Linked DNA regions of Homo sapiens: region 2 is linked to region 1. The links come from fine-mapping of genetic effects on gene expression. Tissue or cell type: cerebellum. Region 1 holds a variant in brackets; the other region holds the start of a gene. All regions are shown on one strand. Distances are from middle to middle. Region 1 has its middle 49 kb from the start of CECR2. Region 2 holds the start of CECR2 (CECR2 histone acetyl-lysine reader).

The links.
Region 2: CECR2 starts here. The variant in region 1 is fine-mapped to the expression of CECR2 in cerebellum (GTEx, PIP 0.97).

What each region holds. Positions count from the first base shown.
Region 1 is chr22:17,315,494-17,324,876 of GRCh38, forward strand. No RefSeq gene overlaps it. Among named protein-coding and RNA genes, the nearest start is that of CECR2, 49 kb to the right of the region's middle. The variant G/A (reference allele first, on the strand shown) is at 5,308.
Region 2 is chr22:17,364,574-17,373,956 of GRCh38, forward strand. It overlaps CECR2 (CECR2 histone acetyl-lysine reader), which reads left to right and starts at 4,887. Exons shown (of 19, transcript NM_001290047.2): 1 at 4,887-5,336. The coding sequence starts at 5,211. RefSeq lists silencers at 5,145-5,214, 5,225-5,324.

The DNA.
Region 1 (9,383 bases):
AGGCACATTAATCAAGTAAATGTGTCATCTGTCAGATAGTGAGGAGGGACATAAAGAGAAATGAATGAGCGTAAGGGGACGGAGAGAGGGCAGAAAGGGGATCCATTTTAGAGAGGGTATCAGTGTATGAGGAGACGTCTGAGCAAAGGCTTATTAAGCCAAGTGAAGGGTTGAGGCATGGGGGCACATGCTCTGAGTAGAGCAGAGAGCTGTCTTGTTCATTTCAGTGTCTCAAAGAATCTGCTGCTGCGTCCTCGAGTAACTTCCCAGTAAACACTGGGGGAATGTGGAGAGGAATGGCTACTTGAAGGTATAATTGATAAAGAAGAAAGGAGCAACTTACTGACCATTACATCAGACTAGCCAAGACACTTGTTGCACAGAGACTTTCTTAGAGCGAACTTTATTACAACCAAATAAATTCAGTATTTTCACATGGGACATGAATGTGCATGGGTTTGGAAAAGGTTTTATTATATTTTAATATGTACTCTTCTTTGTAGTAATAATTATTGTAATGAAATTCTATCTGCTGACTTAACTATTAGTTAGAATTTTGTATACTTTATTATATGTAAATTCCATTACAATGTTCTGCCTTTCTTATAAAAAAATTACTTCAAATAGGCAATACATTTGTAAGATTTAAAAATCAGATTGTATTGGCTGTGTGCAGTGGCCCACTCCTGTAATTCTAGCACTTTAGGAAGCAGAGGTGGGAGGATTGCTTGAGCCCAGAAGTTCAAGACCAGCCTGGACAACATAGTGAGACACTGTCTGAATAAAATTTAAAAATTTAAAAAAAAAGAAGGTATACACAGATGCATGGTGAAAAGTCTTCCTCCCACCCTTTGTCCTTTTGTTGCCCAGATGGCATCTGGAGCCTCAGCACACTTGCACACACAAAACTGCTATTATTAGTACCTTAGATATCCCCCCTGAGTTTCTTCATGCATATACAAACAAGTTGTATTAGGCCATTCTCACACTGCTGTACAGAAATACCTGAGACTGGGTAATTCATAAAGAAAGAGGTTTGACTGGGCGCAGTGGCTCACCCTTCTAAACCCAGCACTTTGGGAAGCCGGGGTGGGTGGATCATTTGAGGTCAGGAGTTCGAGACCAGCCTGGCCAACATGGTGAAACCTCATCTTTACTAAAAATACAAAAATTAGCTGGGCGTGGTGGCTCACGCCTGTAATCCCAGCTACTCGGGAGGCTGAGGCAGGAAAATCGCTTGAGCCTGGGAGATGGAGGTCGCGGTGAGCTGAGATCGCGCCATTGCATTCCAGCCTGGGTGACAGAGTGAGACCCTGTCTCCAAAACTTAAAAAAAAAAAAAAAAAGGTTTAATTGCCTCACGGTTCGGCAGGCTGTGAAGCATGGCAGCCTCCTCTTCTGGGGAGGCCTCAAGGAGCTTTTACTCATGGCGGAAGGCTAAGCGGGGGCAGGCATCTTACATGGCAGGAGCAGGAGCAAGAGAGATGGGGAAGATGCTACACATGTTTAGACAACCAGATCTCAGCTCTCACGAGAACTCACTCACTATCAGGAGAACAGCACCAAGGGGAAATCTGTCCCCACAGACCCAATCACCTCTCACAGGCCCCACCTCCAACATTGGGGATTACAATTCCACATGAGATTTGGGCAGGGACGCAGATCCAAATCATATTAAGTATAAATATACCACCAGGTGCAGTGGCTCACACCTGTAATCTCAGCACTTTGGAAGGCCAAGGCAGGCAGACTGTCTGTGCTCAGGAGTTCGAGACCAGCCTGGGCAACATGGCAAAACCCCTCTCTACTAAAAATACAAAAACTAGCCGGGCATGGTGGCGGGCACCTGTAGTCCCAGATACTTGGGAGGCTGAGGCAGGAGACTCACTTGAACCTGGGAGTCAGAGGTTGCAGTGAGCCCTGTGATTGCACCACTGCACTCCAGCCTGGGCAACAGAGGGAGGCTCTATCTCAAAAAAAAAGTATAAATATATATTCTTATCTTGTCCCCTCTCATACAAATGGTAGCATACTCTTTACAACATTTTGCATTTTGCTTTTAAAATTTTCTTGGGGCCAGATGTGATGGCTCATGCCTGTAATCCCAGCACTTTGGGAGGCTGAGGCAGGCGGATCACCTGAGGTCAGGAGTTCGAGACCAGCCTAGCCAACATGGTGAAACCCCGTCTCTATTAAAAATTAGCTGGGCATGGCGGCACATGCCTGTAATCCCAGCTACTCAGGAGGCTGAGGCAGGAGAATTGCTTGAACTCCGGAGGCGAAGGTTGCGGTAAGCCGAGATTGCACCATTGCACTCCAGCCTGGGCGACAAGAGCAAAACTCTGTCTCAAAAAAAAAAATTTTTTTTTTCTTGGAGGTTTCCTTATCAGAAATAGAGGGTTTCTCATTCCATTTTATGGTTGCATAGCATTCTACTGTATGAAAGACCATGATTTGTTTAAAGTCCCCCTCTGGGCAGAGGTTGCAGTGAGCTGAGATCACGCCACTGCACTCCAGCCTGGGTGACAGAGCAAGCCTCTGTCTCAAAAAAGAAAAAAAGTCTCCTTCTGATGGACTAGTAGGCTTCCAGATTTTTGTTATTCAAACAACACTTTAATAAATAACTTGGGGCCGGGCACGGTGCCTCATGTCTGTAATCCCAGCACTTCGGGAGGCCAAGCTGGGTAGATCACGAGGTCAGGAGTTCGAGCCCACCCTGGCTAACACGGTGAAACTCCGTCTCTACTAAAAATACAAAAAATTAGCCAGGCACGGTGGCGAGCGCCTGTAGTCCCAGCTACTCGGGAGGCTGAGGCAGGAGAATGGCGTGAACCCGGGAGGCAGAGCTTGTAGTGAGCCAAGATGGCGCCACTGCACTCCAGACTGGGCGACAGAGCGAGACTCCGTCTCAAGATAAAATAAAATAGTAAAATAAATAACTTGGAACATTTATCATTTTGCCTGTGTATGAGTCTAGCTGTAGAATAAACTCCTAGAAGAAGAATTGGTAGATCAAAGGGTGTACTCATTAGTGATTTTTTTAGATATCACTAAACAGCCTTCCCTAGAGGTGGTACCATTGAACTGTATTTCTTCTCTCTTTCTCTCATGACATACAATTTATTGAATGTCTAGTGCCTGTTAGGCGCCATGAGAAGTACTGGGGATGTGAATCAAATAAGATTTGGTTTCTGTCTCATTGGAACTCACAGTCTGGTGCAGTGGTTTTCAACTGGGATGATTTTACTCTCCAGGGACATTTGGCAATGTCTACAGACATGTTTTGGAGGGAGGTTGCTAATGGCATACTGGCACGTAGTAGGTAGAAGCCAGGGATCCTGCTAAACATCCTGCAATGCACAGGGAAGTCCTCACTACAAGGAAGTTTAAGCCCAAAATGTCAATAGTGCTGGGTTGACAAGCCCTGGGCTCATGGGAGAGAGAGACGGACACTCAAATGTGCTACGGAAAAGGTGTGTTCTTGAAACTTAGAGGAGTGGCTTCCAAAGGGCTTTTTCAGAAGGTGCAAGTGGATTCTGGAGGGAGGAGGGGGTGCGAGGAGAAAGGGAACAGTAAGTGCAGTGGTGTGGAGGTGTGAACAGCTTGACCCAGGAGGAAGGACAAGTGGTTTTGAATGGCTGGACTACTAAAAGCTATGTGAGTGTGGAGCAAGGCCAGACAGACAGGCATGGATGGTGCTGACTGACAAGGGTCCTAGCTGCTAAGCTAATGAGGGGAGTCAATGAAGGGTTTTAAGCATGGGAGTGAGTTACTTAGATGTGCATTTTAAAGAAACTCACATTGGGTGTGGGAAGGAGGGCAGCCTGGATGGGATCAGATTGGCCACAGGCAGAAGAATTAAGAGGCTGCAGCAATAATCCAGGTTGGATGTGACAAGAGCCATCACCAAGTGAGAGTGGGAACAGAGGGGAGAGGACAGGCTCAGGAGATATAAAAGAAGGTAGATTCAGAAGGTCATGGAGCTAGGAAGGAGATCTATAGGATAATTCCTAGGTTTTGATATGTAAGCAATAGGGTGGACAGAGAGGTCGTTCTGTAAAATAGAGAACACAGGAGAGCAGATGGGGGCAGGGGAGAAATGCAAACAGACATGTTGTGTCTGAGCGCCGTGGGGCCCGTCAGTGAACAGGGGAATGTTCAGACCCCTGGTCAGCAGAAAGCCCAGGGCCAGCATGCACATTCAAGAGGCATCAGCCAGGAGCTGTCCTTTGAGGCCCTGGGTGTGGATAAATAAGCTCATCCAGGCGGAATGAAGAAAGAGGAGTGGGTGGAGAGCCCAGCCCTGAGGAGCAGCTGTTGATTGGCCTCTGTGGAAATTGCAGGAGGAGCTGCTCAGGTCTTTTATGAATTTCTGTTGTCATTTCTTCTAGCTTTGCCAACTGTGGGGCTCTCTATTTTCTTCTGTGCAAACGTCCTAATTCTTGGCAATTTAAAGGGCTATGCCAATCTAACTTATTGTTACTAATACTGTTATTGTTATTATCCCAACTGTTCATCTGGTACCCAAAAGCCTTCCTCAGCTTACAATTTGCCACCTCCTACAATCATCCTTGGTTTTCTGCTTGCTTCATAAGGAACTCTGTGCAAACACCTACCATGGAAATGAAAAGCTCCATTGTAATGGTCTGTTGTTTGATTCCCCAGCTATACTAAAAGCTCCTTAGAGCAAGAATTACAGTTTATTTGTCTTAGAGTCTCCAGCACCTGTAACAGTGCTTAGCACTTAGGTATTTGAAAAATGGCTGTTAATGAATGATTTTGGTTGAGTTCTAAGAGGTTTATTGACAGGCCCACCATCGATCCCAGGGCAGGCTGGTTTATACCTGTTGTCCTGGCAGAGTTATAAACAATATTAATAATAACCCCTTTCAGCTGGGCGTGGTGGCTCATGCCTGCACTTTGGGAGGCTGAGGTGGATGGATCACTTGAGGTCAGGAGTTCAAGACCAACCTGGTCAACATGGTGAAACTTCATCTCTACTAAAAATACAAAAATTAGCCGGGCATGGTGGCACATGCCTGTAATCCCAGCTACCCAGGAGGCTGAGACAGGAGAGTCACTTGAATCCAGGAGGCGGAGGTTGCAGTGAGCCACTGAACTCCAGCTGGGTGACAGAGCAAGACTCTCTCTCAAAATAATAATAATAACAACGTCTTTCAATCACAAATCTGCCCTAGTTTAACGGATAAAGTATATGGTGACCCTATTTGCAGAACACTAAACTGTCATAGCCGGTCCTAACATTAGGTAGGTTTCTCTGTTTACAAAACATTCCTGCCAGAGAAAC[G/A]GGTGGACACAGCAGGGTGGGTTACCAGCTCAAGTCAACATTAAAAAAGGGAGCCATTCTTCTGAGATAAGATAACAGAGTTATGGGGAAAAGGGAATTCAGGCAGATCCTCACATTAATAAAACTTGTTTTAAAACCAGCAAGCTATCAAATCAGTATAAAAAATAATTGGCACAAATAGAGTGGTTGAGTATTAAGAACCAAGAATCATGGGATTTTTTTTTTTTTTTTGTGAGGTCTTGGATAGGAGAATCAAGAAATTTTTAATTTTTTTTTTTTTTTTTTTTTTTGAGATGGAGTTTCACTCTTGTTTCCCAGGCTGGAGTGCAATGGCACAATCTCGGCTCACTGCAACCTCTACCTCCTGGGTTCAAGCAATTCTCCTGCCTCGGCCTACTGAGTAGCTGGGATTACAGGCACCCACCACAACACCTGGCTAATTTCTGTATTTTTAGTAGAGATGGGGTTTCTCCATGTTGGCCAGGCTGGTCTCGAACTCCTGATCTCAGAGGATCTGCCCGCCTCGGCCTCCCAAAGTGCTGGAAGCCACCACGCCCAGCCGAGAGTCACAGAATTTTATAGGTATAATAATTCATTGTGTGAGTGGGGAAAGTGAGGCATAGAGAAGTTATGTTGAGCTGGCCAATATATAACTTGTGTAAAAATTGGGCCTAGACATAAGAGTAATCAGATCAATGAAAGATAACAGAGAACTAAGAAAGAGACCCACACTGCAATCATTTGATTTTCAACAAACGTAACAAGAAATCTAGTGGGGAAAGGAAAGTTTTTTCAACCAATGGTGCTGGAACAACTAAATACCCATATCGGGGAAAAGACCAGGCATGGAGATGCCTGTAATCCCAGCACTTTAGGAGTCTGAGGCAAGAAGATCACTTGAACCTAGGAGTTCGAGACCAGTCTGGGCAACATAGTGAGACCCTGTCTCTACAAAAATAAAAATAAAAATTAGTTAAGTGTGGTGACGTGTGCCTGTGGTCCCAGATACTCCAGAGGCTGAGGCAGGAGGATCACCTGAGCTCAGGGAGGTCGAAGCTGAAGTGAGCTGTGATTGTGTCACTGCACTTCAATGTAGGCAACAGAATAAGACCTTGTCTCAAAAAAAAAAAAAAAATCAAACTAACATATGGGGAAAAAGTGAACTTTGACCACTTACCCCACACCATTCACAAAGATTAATTTGAGATGGATTAGAGACCTAAAACTATTCAGTTTTAGTACTATGACAGTAAAACATCTGGAGAAAACCATAAGAAAATGTCTTTGTGATTTAAGGGTACGCAAATATATCTTACAGAAGACAGGGAAAGCAATAATTACCAAAAAAAAAAAAAAAAACTTGTCAATTTAGACTTCCACAAAATAAAAAACTTCCACTCATCAAAAGATACTGTTAAGAAAAGAATAAGTGGCCTGGGCGAGGTGGCTCACGCCTGTAACCCCAGCACTTTGGGAGGCCAAAGCAGGTGGATTACCTGAGGTCAGGAGTTTGAGACCAGCCTGACCAACATCGTGAAACCCCATCTCTACCGAAAATACAAAAATTAGCCGGACGTGGTGGTGGGCACCTGTAAATCCCAGCTACTTGGAAGACTGAGGGAGAAGAATTGCTAGAACCCAGCAGGCGGAGGTTTCAGTGAGCCAAGATCGCACCACTGCACTCCAGCCTGAGGGACAGAGTGAGACTCCATCTCAAAAAAAAAAAAAAAAAAAAGAAAAAGAAAAGAAAAAATAAGCAAGCCACAGACTGAAAAAAATTTGCAAAACATATGTCTAATAGATGCCTATTAGTTAGAAAGAGAAAAATAGGAACTTCACAGTGGAGAAATCTGGCAGATTCCACTTTTAACCGTGTGACCTAAATTAACATCACCGGTAATGAGACCAATGGACATCACATACATCATGACAGGCTGCACTGAGAAAGACCCAATCTCCCTTCTGTGGTATTCCGGCAAAAAAAAAAAAAAAAAAAAAAAAAAAAATGCATATCATCAATCTAATCCTGCAGAAAGATCAGACAAACACAAAACGAGGGAAATTCTGCAAAACAGCTGGCCTATTCCCTTCAAAAATATCAAGGTTGTAAAGGACAAAGAAATATGAAAAACTGTTCCAGATTACAGGAGACTAAAGAGACATAATAACTGAATGCAGCATGTGATCCCAGATAGTACCACAGAACACCGATGAGACAGCTGGTGAAATATGAAGAAGGTCAAAGTTTAGATAAATACTATTATATTAATGTTAGTTTCCTGATGTGCATAATTGTATCGCTGTTATGAAGAGAATGTACTTTTTAATTATTTAAAAAATTGTTATTTTATTTCATTTTTTTAGAGACAGGGTCTTGCTATATTGCCCAGGCTGGACTCCTCTACTGAAGCCATCCTCCTGCCTCAGCCCCCTGAGTAGCTGGGGCTACAGATGTACACCACTATGCCCAGCTAGGATACATATTTTAAAAAGGAAATACACTCTGAAGAATTTAGAGGTAAAAGGGCATCCTGTCTGCAATTTACTCTCAAACATATTAAAAAATATGTTTGTATATATGTGCACATATATAAGTATGTACATATTTATAGACAGAATAAATGATAAAGCAAATAGGATAAAACATTAACATTTGGGGAATATGGGTAAAGGGACTATGGGAATTCCTACTACCATTTTGCAATATTTTGGAAGTCTAAAATTACTTCAAAATAAAAAATGTGTAGAGATAGATATCTGACAAAGGACTTGTATTCAGAATATATAAAGAATGCCATACCTATAATTCTATAAAAACAAACAACCCAATTAAAACCTGGATCCTAGCACTTTGGAAGGCTGAGGTGGGAGGATTGCTTGTGCACAGGACTTCAAGACTAGCCTGGGCAACATAGCGAGACCCCTGCCTCTACAAAATATTAAAAAAGTAGTCAGGTGTGGTGGCATGCACCTGTGATCCTGGCTCCTTGGGAGGCTGAGACAGGAGGATCGCTTAAGCCCAGGAGTTCGAGGCTACAGTGAGCTATAATCGTGCCACTGCACTCCAGCCTGGGTGACAGAGCGAGACCCTGTCTCTAAATTAATTAATTAATTTAATTTAATTAAAACAGCTTCTTAAAAAACTGGACAAAATATTTGAAGGGACACTTCACAAAGAAACATACATGAAAGGGAAATAAATACATGAAAAGATGCTAAAAATTAGAAACCATTATTGAAATGCCAATTAAAACCACAATGCAATACCATCAAATGAAAAAGATTGACAGCACTAAATATTAGCAAAGATATGGAGCAACTGGAACTTTCATATATTGTTGGTGGGAGTGTTAACTGCAAAGAAGTTTTTTTTCTTTTTTTTTTTGGCTTTTTTTGAGACAAGATCTGGCTCTCTCATCCAGGTTGGAGTGCAGTGGTGCAGTCTCGGCTCACTGCAACCTCCACCTCTTGGGTTCAAGTGACCTCTCACTTCAGCCTCCCAAGCAGCGGGGACTACAGGTGCGCACCACCATGTCTGGCTAATTTTTGTATTTTTGTAGAGATGGAGTTTTGCCATGTTGCCCAGTCTGGTCTTGAACTCCTGGCCTCATGTGATCTGCCCACTTCAGCCTCCCAAAATGCTAGGATTACAGGTGTGAGCCACTGTGCCCAGCCTGCCAACACAATATTGAAGGAGAAGGAGAAAGTCAGAGGATTGACACTACCCAATTTAGAGACTCACTATAAGGCAGTGTGATATCGCTAAAAGAACAGAAAAACAAGTGTGGTATTGCTAAGAGAACAGAAAAACAGATAGCTGGAACAGAATAGACAGCCCAGACAGACAAGCATAGATACAGTTAATGGATCTTTTTCAAAGGAGCAAAGGCAATACAATGGAGAGAGTTCTTTTCTTTTCTTTTCTTTTTTTTTTTTTTTTGAGACAGAGTCTCACTCTGTCATCCAGGCTGCAGTCTAGTGGCACAGTCACGACTCACTGCAGCCTCAATCTCCTGGGCTCAAGCGATTCTCTCACCTTAGTCTCCCAAGTAGCTGGGACCAGAGGTGCACACCAC
Region 2 (9,383 bases), 49 kb after region 1:
GATTACAAAGTGCTGTGATCCCAGCACTTTGGGAGGCCGAGGTGGGTGGATCACAAGGTTCGGAGTTCCAGACCAGCCTGGCCAATATGGTGAAACGCCATCTCTACTAAAAATACAAAAATTAGCTGGGAGTGGTGCCACGCACCTATAGGCTGAGACAGGAGAACCGCCTGAACGCAGAAGGCAGAGGTTGCAGTGAGCTGAGATCACACCACTGCACTCCAGCCTCGGCAACAGAGGGAGATTCCGTCTCAAAAAACAAAAAACAAAACAAACAAACAAAAAAACAAAAAATAAGAAGAAGAAGAAGAGAGAAGTAGCATGATTCCAAAGAGAGAAAACTGGCTGAACAGTTAGATTTGGATGCTTGGCTGGGCGCAGTGGCTCACGCCTATAATCCCAGCACTCTGGGAGGCTGAGGCAGGTGGATCACCTGAGGTCGGGAGTTTGAGACCAACCTGACCAACATGAAGAAACCCTATCTCTACTAAAAATACAAAACTAGCCAGGCGTGGTGGTGCGTGCCTGTAAACCTAGCTACTCGGGAGGCTGAGGCAGGAGAATTGCTTGAACCCAGGAGGCAGAGGTTGCAGTGAGCCAAGATCATGCCACTGCACTCCAGCCTGGGCAACAAGAGTGAAACTCTGTCTAAAAAAAAGGAAAAAGAAAAAGATTTGGATGCTTGTCCTGGTTAACGACGGTTATGAAGAAGCCACACTTTCCTTTGTTCATCTCTTCCAAGGTTCAGTAATAATAAAGCAGAGCACACATTTTTAAATTAATCCTTTGGAAATAACAGTGTATTTCCCAAAGAAACAATGTCATAAAAAAGGTGGTTAGGCCAGACTCAGTGGCTCACGCCTGTAATCCTAGTACTTTGGGAGGCCAAGGTGGGCGGATCACGAGGTCAGGAGATCGAGACCAGCCTGGCTAACACGGTGAAACCCCGTCTCTACTAAAAATACAAAAAAAATCAGCCAGGCGTGGTGGTGGGTGCCTGTACACCCAGCTACTCGGGAGGCTGAGGCAGGAAAATGGTGTGAACCGGGGAGGCGGAGCTTGCAGTGAGCCAAGATGGCACCACTGCACTCCAGCCTGGGTGACAGATCAAGACTGTCTCGGAAAAACAAACAAACAAACAAAAACAAACAAAAAAATGTGGTTAGCCTGGCCTGTAGTGCCAGCTATCTGGGAGGCTGAGGCAGGAGGATTGCTCAGTAAGGTGGCAGTGAGCTATGACTGCACCACTCCACTGCAGCCTGGACAACAAAGGGAGACCCCCTATGTAAAAAAAAAAAAAGGGTGGTTCATTTCCCAGATTATCCTCCAGGAACCTATATAAATCCCAACATAGCTAACATTACTTCATATTTTGCAATGGGAAACATAAATATTTTTGCAATATTAATGAATAAGCAAAACAGAAAAACCAAACGAATTATTGTGGGATTTTTAAATAGAAAACATTTGATTCAAAGGGGATTATGGAACTCAGGGTCAGAGAATATGAAAGAATTACTTCTTGCTACTTTTAATACTATCTGAAGTTAATGGCACTGGCTCACAAACAGAAAACAGCACGAATGAGAAGGGGAAAGAAAATATGAGCTGTGTTTTTTCTTTTTTCTTTTTTTGAGATTGAGTCTCACTCTGTCGCTAGGCTGGAGTACAGTGGCACGATCTCCGCTCACTGCAACCTCTGCCTCCCGGGTTCAACCAATCATCCTGCCTCAGCCTCCGAGTAGCTGGGAGTACAGGGGCGTGCCACCACGCCCAGCTAATTTTTTGTATTTTTAGCAGAGACGGAGTTTCACCATGTTGGCTAGGATGGTCTCGATCTCTTTACCTCGTGATCCGCCTGCCTGGGCCTCCCAAAGTGCTGAGATTACAGGCGTCACCTACCGCCCCGGCAAACTGTGTGTTTTTAAGGAAGATGATTCAACTAGTGTTTCGAGGGTGAAAGAATGGGCCAGGCTGGAGAAGTACAATAGCACTCCGAATCAAAGGGAGAAGGGAAGAAGGGTGAGTGGCCAGCCTATTGGTAGGGGGTCATTAATCTAGATTCTAGGAGGTTAGGCTGGAAGTTAGTCCAGAAAATAGATCCGAGGCAGTTAAGTCCAAGGGGAGGCGTGGCACAGATGTTCAAAGCAGGGTCAAAGATTCAGGGTATCAATCCTAACAGGGCCAGAGAAGGTCCAAATGGAAAAGCTCTGGTTGGAGCCCAAACTCGGGGAACTCAAGATTGAGATTTACTGTTGATTCCAAGACACTTGAGACCCCTCAGCTCCTGGGGCCAGGATCCGTTCCAGAGGGTAGTTGAGGCCAGAGTAGCAGGGTAGGTGGAGGAACTAGGGAAAAAACTGTAGAGACAAACAGAGTTAGAGAATGGTGGGAGGAAATGGGTCTAAAGTTGGTGTGCTGGGCCACAGAACAGAGAAGACCCTCAGAAGGAAAGGGCAGCAGAAGGGAGGAGGAGCCCTGAGAGACAGGGCGGATCTCCGAGCAGCACCAGGGGGCGCGTGCCGTTCCCGGACAGTCTTGTTGATTTCCGGGGCTTGGCAGTAGGCGGAGGAGGCAGGAAGACAATGGCTCAGCCTTTAAATTGGGGCTGGGGTGGTGTTTGTAAACGACATTAAACACACTACCGTACTAAAAGGTAGCCAAATCATCTCATCCCTCTGCTTGCTGGTGTCATTAATATCCTAGGCACTAATATTACTAGGCTGGCTAGTGGTGACAACTGAGAGGCGAGGGAAGAAGCTTAAACGATGACAAAAGATAAAGGCAGGGAAACGCAGTAACACTTTTTTTTTTTAATTTTTATTTTTTGAGACGGAGTCTCACTCTTACTGCTCAGGCTGGAGTGCAATGGCGAGATCTCGGCTCATTGCAATCTCTGCCTCCCGAGTTCAGGCGATTCTCCTGCCTCAGTCTCCCGAGTAGCTGGGACTACGGGCGCCTGCCACCACACCCATCTAATTTTATGTATTTTTAGTAGAGACGAGGTTTCACAATGTTGGCCAGGCTGGTCTCGAACTCCTGACCTAAGGTGAACCACCCGCCTCGGCCTCCCAAAGTGCTGGGATTACAGGCGTAAGCCACCGCGCCCGGCCAACTCACACAGAGGAAAAAGTGTGCAAAGTCAAACTGTGAGGAAATAAAAGACGGAGAAGCAAGTCCAGAAAGCACCTCGTTCAGGTTACGTGACAATTCCGGGGTGGCCTGTGTCCCTCTCCCATCTCCCTTGCTAATGCAATACTCACGGGGTAGCTGTGCTTCACCAACACACACAAACGTAGGCTTGGCTTTTTGGGAGCAGTCACATGTGAGCTCATTTTTGCCAAACATTAAATAAAAAGCATGGTAGAATTTGAGGATGCACTTTAAATCATCAAATAGTTCCAGGGAATGAAAGAGCAGAACTTTGGGTTGTTTTTCTGTGCCAGGAGAGAGTGGTGGGGGGCGGAGGAGACCCTTGTTAGAAGATGATGTATTTTGAGATTACTAGATTCACAGAAGATGCACGTGAATATACTCTAACCATTTAAAATTATGTTTCTGAATGCTGCCTTAAAAAATACAACAAGTTATTATCATAATAAAGTGAGGGAGAGTGGAGGGGTAATTATCCAGACAGCCCATTCCAAAATCTATCATATAAATTATCTCCAGATTGTACACTACTTAAAGGTAGAAGAGGATCTTTGAGTTTAACCCTTGTACACTTTGTGATTGTGCCTGTCACTCAATAAATAGTTGATTAATTTGGGGGACGCACCAGGAGCAGTGTTTCCTATCTGAAAGGTGGACCACCGAACTCAGAGGCGGCCCTCTGAGACCAGCAGGATGCAAGTGCGACGACCAATACAAATATCTGAGCATTCAATGGAGTTTTTCCAAACTTCTAGCCTGTTTCTGGGGTGATTTTTTTTCTTAGGATTTAGCAGTACTCCACCGCGCTACAGCAGTTAGCATTTCTAAAGCACACACTCCAACACCCTTCGGCCGTAGCACATTCAATCCCTCCGCCGGGGCGTGGGGGTCTCCTCCCCTCCGAGCACAGTCCCCGGCTTCCCGATCTCCTCTGCCCCATCCCCCCGCCTTCCAAGCACATTGTGCTCACTCTTCCAGGCAGCTCTTTCAGCGGCCGGGCAGTAGCAGGGTTCCGAGCCCGTCTTCTCCGGGGCGGTCACACGTGTCCATTCCCTGGGGTTGGGGATCGCTCTTCCCGCTTGGCTGCTGATTGGTGCCTCCCCCTACCCCACCCTTCCCGCCGCTCTCCAGCCTCCATCCTACTTCGTTCCAGCTCAATCAGCCCCACCGCCTTCTTCCCTCGGAGAAAAAAGCCACTTCAGAGCTCCTTGGGCGCCGTTCTCGGCTGGAATAAAAGCGTTAAGAAACAGGTGGAAAGCACTTCACTTCTCTAGGCTTCATATTTCTAGGGTGGACAGCCCGCTCCTGCTCCGGCTCTGCCCTCGGCATCAATAATAACTGAACTCCCACACGTGCACGTTTCTGTCTCTAGCCCGACCGAAAGGACCACCCCGCGGGCCCTTTAAAAGGACGCGACCACTCAGGCCAAGTGGGGGTGGGAGAGCTCCTGGCCGTCCTCCCTTGGGAAAGTGCTTCAACTCCCCAGTCCCAAAGTCCTGGAGGGCGGAGGGCGCCTCGTGAGAGTTCTCGGGGGTGCGGCCCGCGCCCCCTGGGTCCTGCGGATCTGGGCCCGGGGGCGCGCGCCCCGCCCCTCCCCCTCCCTGGCGGTGCAGCTGTCCGGGCGGGGGTGGGGCGGGGGCGGGGGTTGTTGTTGTGGCGCGGGCAGCCCCGCCCCCTCCTCGTGGGCGGCCCCTCCCCCAGGCCCCGCGTCCGGCCCCTCCGCCCCTAGCCCCATCTGTTTCTCCGGCGGGGACTCGATTATATTGTAGGGGACTGGGGGCGGCCGCCGCCGCAGCCGCGGGATGGGGCGAGCGCGCGGACCCCGCGGGCAGCCGCAGCCGCAGCCGCCTCAGTAGTTCGGGCCCCCGCGCCGCCGCCCCCCGCCCGGCGCCCGCCCTCGGCTCCTGCACTCGCCGAGCGGCGGCAGCAGCGGGAGGAGCGCCCCGCCGCCCCCGCCGAGGACCGCGCGGAGGCTGCGGCGCTGCCGCGGCGGGAGTCCCAGGTCGGCGGGCAGAGCGCGGGCAGCGAGGGGCCGCCGCCTGTGCCGCAGCGGGGAGATGTGCCCAGAGGAGGGCGGCGCGGCCGGGCTGGGCGAGCTCCGCTCCTGGTGGGAGGTCCCGGCCATCGCGCACTTCTGCTCGCTCTTTCGCACCGCGTTCCGCCTGCCCGACTTCGAGATCGAGGTGAGTGGCCGCGCGGGCGGGAGGCGGCGCGCTGCGCCCCCTGCTCCCCCTGCCCCGCGCGGGGTGTCCCGGGCCGTCGCGCAGAGGGGCCGGGGCCCGAGGGACTTCGGCCGGGAGTCGGGGGCCAGGAGGAGGGCGCAAAAGGGCAGGAGGGCGGGCGGGGGCCGCCGGGCTGTGCCCGGGTGCCGAGGGGCGTCGGGCCGGGGACGCCGGATCCTGGGGTGGAGGAGCAGGCACCGCGAGGGCGGGGCGGGCCCGTGCTTTTGTGGGAGAGGGAGCGGGAGCGGGACCCGGCGACCCTCCCGGGACTTCTCCGGTGGGCTGGGGCTGGGTGTGGGCGCGAGGGCTGCGCGCGCTCGCCGCCCGGTGCCATTGAGGCGCGAGCCAGCTGCTCCGGCGGGGCCGGGCGCGGGGGGGGGGCCCGCGCGGGATTAACTCGGACCGGGGCGGGAGTCGGCCGCGGCCGGCGGGGAGGGCTAGCCCCGCTCTGGCGGGCGGGCGCGTGGCAGGGGCTCCCGGAGGCCCCAAGCTCCCGGGAGGCGCTCCGGCCAACTTCGGGCCGGTGGGGACCGGGCCTGGGCGCGGGGCTCTGGAGGTGTGGAAGGAAAGTTTGGGACTCCGTTATTCTTCCACAGCGTCCTTCCTCCCGTAATATCCAGCCTCTTTATCGCGGGGCTCGGGAGCCCTTGGAGTTGATCTCGCCACCATTATCCCCCCGGGCGAGCGCGGAGGACGGGCTGGCCATTCTGGCCAGGCCGGAGGTGTTTTCCAGCCCGGGGCTTTGTGATAACTGGGCCGAAACCCGAGGGTCCTGGAGCGCGGCGGGTGGCGGGAGCTTGCGGAGCGCGGCGCACTCGGCGGCCAGGCATCGGCCAGCCCAGCGGCAGCCCCCTTTCTCCTATTTTTATTTTTATTTTTGGAAGGAGCTGAGAATTAGTCGATTGGTTGGCAGGTTGAATTGCCTTCTCTTCTATGGCAATATGTGTCGTGACTTTTCACCTTTTGCCTTTGGACAAAGGTGAATGGCAACTGCGTTGGTCAGTTTTTGTTTTCTGTTCTGCGGATGGGTTCGCCGACGCAGTAATCAAAATTAGAGCCACTCTTTTGGAAGAGCAAATCGTTGTTGTTGCCTCCCCAGCCCCACGGATCTTACTTTGTGCCATTTTCGGGTTGATTTTAACTCGTTTATTTCAGAGCTCTTTGCCTCACCTTTATTTTTAGATTTAGTCGTGTTTGCTGAAATATCAGTTGCTTCTTCTGTGAATGAAGTGTGGGAACTTGCTCTCGTCGCAGTTAATGAAATCAGGAAAATAAAAAGATCAAAAGGGTTGGGGATGGGAGAATGAAGAGGAATGTAGACAGATAGTCTAGGGCCACTCACTGGCTTTTGGCGATTCTTAGTTCCTTAAGCTGATTAAAACAATGTGAGGAAATGTGGGCTTCTCCACTTTTTAGGAAGAGGTAATAACGGGCATTTTACGTGGCGCCACAGCGTTTGTTTTCAAAGTTTGAACGTGAATGTAGCAAGCATAATTTTATTAATGAAAATATTCTTTAGACAACTGTTAATATTGACGAAAGAAGAGAAACAGAGACACGGAAGCTAAAGAGTTGGGAATCCTAAAGGTCAAAGGATGTTTCTCAGTTACTCTGATGTCCTGTGTTTTCTTTCAGTTGGTACAAAATCGTGAGTAGTTTAATTATATCCTGCAGTCAAAATGGTGGCTGTGGTGGGAGGTGCCGCCTGTGACAGGGCCATCTTGGGTGCTGGTAAACTTGCACCTAGTCCCTTTTCTTCCTTGCGAGATAAAGTTGAGGTGGTGCTGGGATTATGAGTTCAGAGTTTAAAGACCCATCCTAAAAATATTGTTGGAAAAACTTTATGTCTCAAAATCCATGTATTCCCATTTTGTTGATGAAAAGCTAGAGGTAACTCATTTTGCCTTAAGTACTCGCAGCATATTTAGAGTAACCTGTAAATAACTTGTCTTCTGTTATAAGCAATAAACTTGTGGTTTCTGAGAATTAGCTGGTTTAATTCCTAAAGGAAATGTAAACTGATTAAAGAGGTCAAATTTATATGTATAACATGAAAAATCACTGTAGTTTACATGGTGAATAATCAAGGCTATTTGATATGACTGTCCTCTCTTTTGACTCCAGTGTTTCTTGGAAATGACACTTTTTTGGGGCTAAAATACATGCTGTTTGAAATACATGCAACAGAAATGAATATTTGGCTTCAAACATGCAGGTTTTAAGAACTATCCACACTCGTTTTTATTTGGAGATGTTCAGTCAGTGGATAACAAAGTGACTTTTCTCACCTGCAGTTTTTGTCTAATCCATCTCAGGTATGTTTTGATATGGCTAATGGAAATTTTAACTTACGCTTTTTAGTAGTTATCAAAAATTAGAATTTTATTGGGAATGATTATATGTGAGATTTAAAAATTAAGATTTAAGAATGTATTTTCTCGACTCGGTGGCTCACCCCTGTAATCCCAGCACTTTGGGAGGCCGAGGTGGGTCGATCACCTGAAGTCAGGAGTTCGAGACGAGACTGGCTAACATGATGAAACCCCGTTTCTACTAAAAATATAAAAAGTTAGCCAGGCATGGTGGCGCGCTCCTGTAATCCCAGTTACATCCGTAGGCTGAGGCAGGATGATCGCTTGAACCCGGTAGGCGGAGGTGGCAGCGAGCCGAGATCGTGCCATTGCACTGCAGCCTGGGCGACAGGGCGAGACTCTGTCTCAAAATAAATATATTAATTAATTAAAAGATAAAAAATTCAAATGCCGAGCCGTACCTGTTAGGCCATGTGGAAGGGCCCTACAGTCTTAATTTTCTGCAACTTTAAAAGGTAAAAATGATAAATAATAGCAAGTAGTAGAAGTTGGGTATCAGTTATTTCAGGAAACCAGTTTTCAGCTGTGGGAAAGATCTCACCAGGCTGAACTCATGGATTTATAGAAAATTGAGGAAGCAGAGTCTTCAAGGACTCGGCTTCCATTTATCTAAAGTGAAGCAATCTCTAAGACAGGTGAAGGGCTGGCAGGATTCATGCCCCACTTCTCCAAGAGATTAAGACCTTCCACTTAGAAAACTGTCCCCAAAACGTGGATATTTTTATTTTTGTGTGTATTAAATAAATTTTTTGTTTTTTCTGAGACGGAGTCTCACTCTGTTGCCCAGGCTGGAGTACAGTGGCGCGACCTCGGCTCACTGCAACCTCCACTTCCCAGGTTCAGGTGATTCTCCCGCCTCAGCCTCCGGAGTAGCTGGGACTACAGGCATGTACCAGCACACCCGGCTAATTTTTGTATTATAAAAAAACTTTTTACTCTATTAATCAACCTTGAATATACAGGATTGCTTTAGAAGAGTCAACGAATACTTGGTTCTTAGTTTTAGATAAGAAACCTGCCAAGTATATAATAGTAATGCCTTATCTCAGTTCAAAATTCCTAGTTGTAAAAATACTAAAAAAAAATTATATAAACGTGAAAATTATCATAAAATACAGGTAAAAATTAAAACCACCCATGGTCACCAATCAGGGATAAAAGTTAACTGTTAACATTGTATCCTTCCACTCAGGGATAAAAGTGATTCACTGTTAACATACTTAGAAATTCCTAAATATGCCCGCAGTGTAATTGTTCTGTAGGTTAGATGTTTTTGCTTTTCAGATGAGATTGAGGTATAGCTGGAAAACAGATGAATGACACTGAATTCAGTAGTTGATATAAACAGATGAATGACACTGAATTCAGTAGTTGATATAAACAGATGAATGACACTGAATTCAGTAGTTGATATCATTAAGCCCCTACTTTGTGCTTAACATGGAACTTGGAAATTTACCAAAGAAGCTCTTACCTGGCCTCCTTTGCCTCAGAAGATTATCTGTTAATATTTCAGAACCAGCAATTTTATACCACTTCAGTTAAATCAAGTATTTTATAATTGTTTAACATTCTAGTGGCTTAGGTTGGCTAAGTTTTGTCCTGATTCAAGAAAAGAAGAAAGGCTAATTGACCT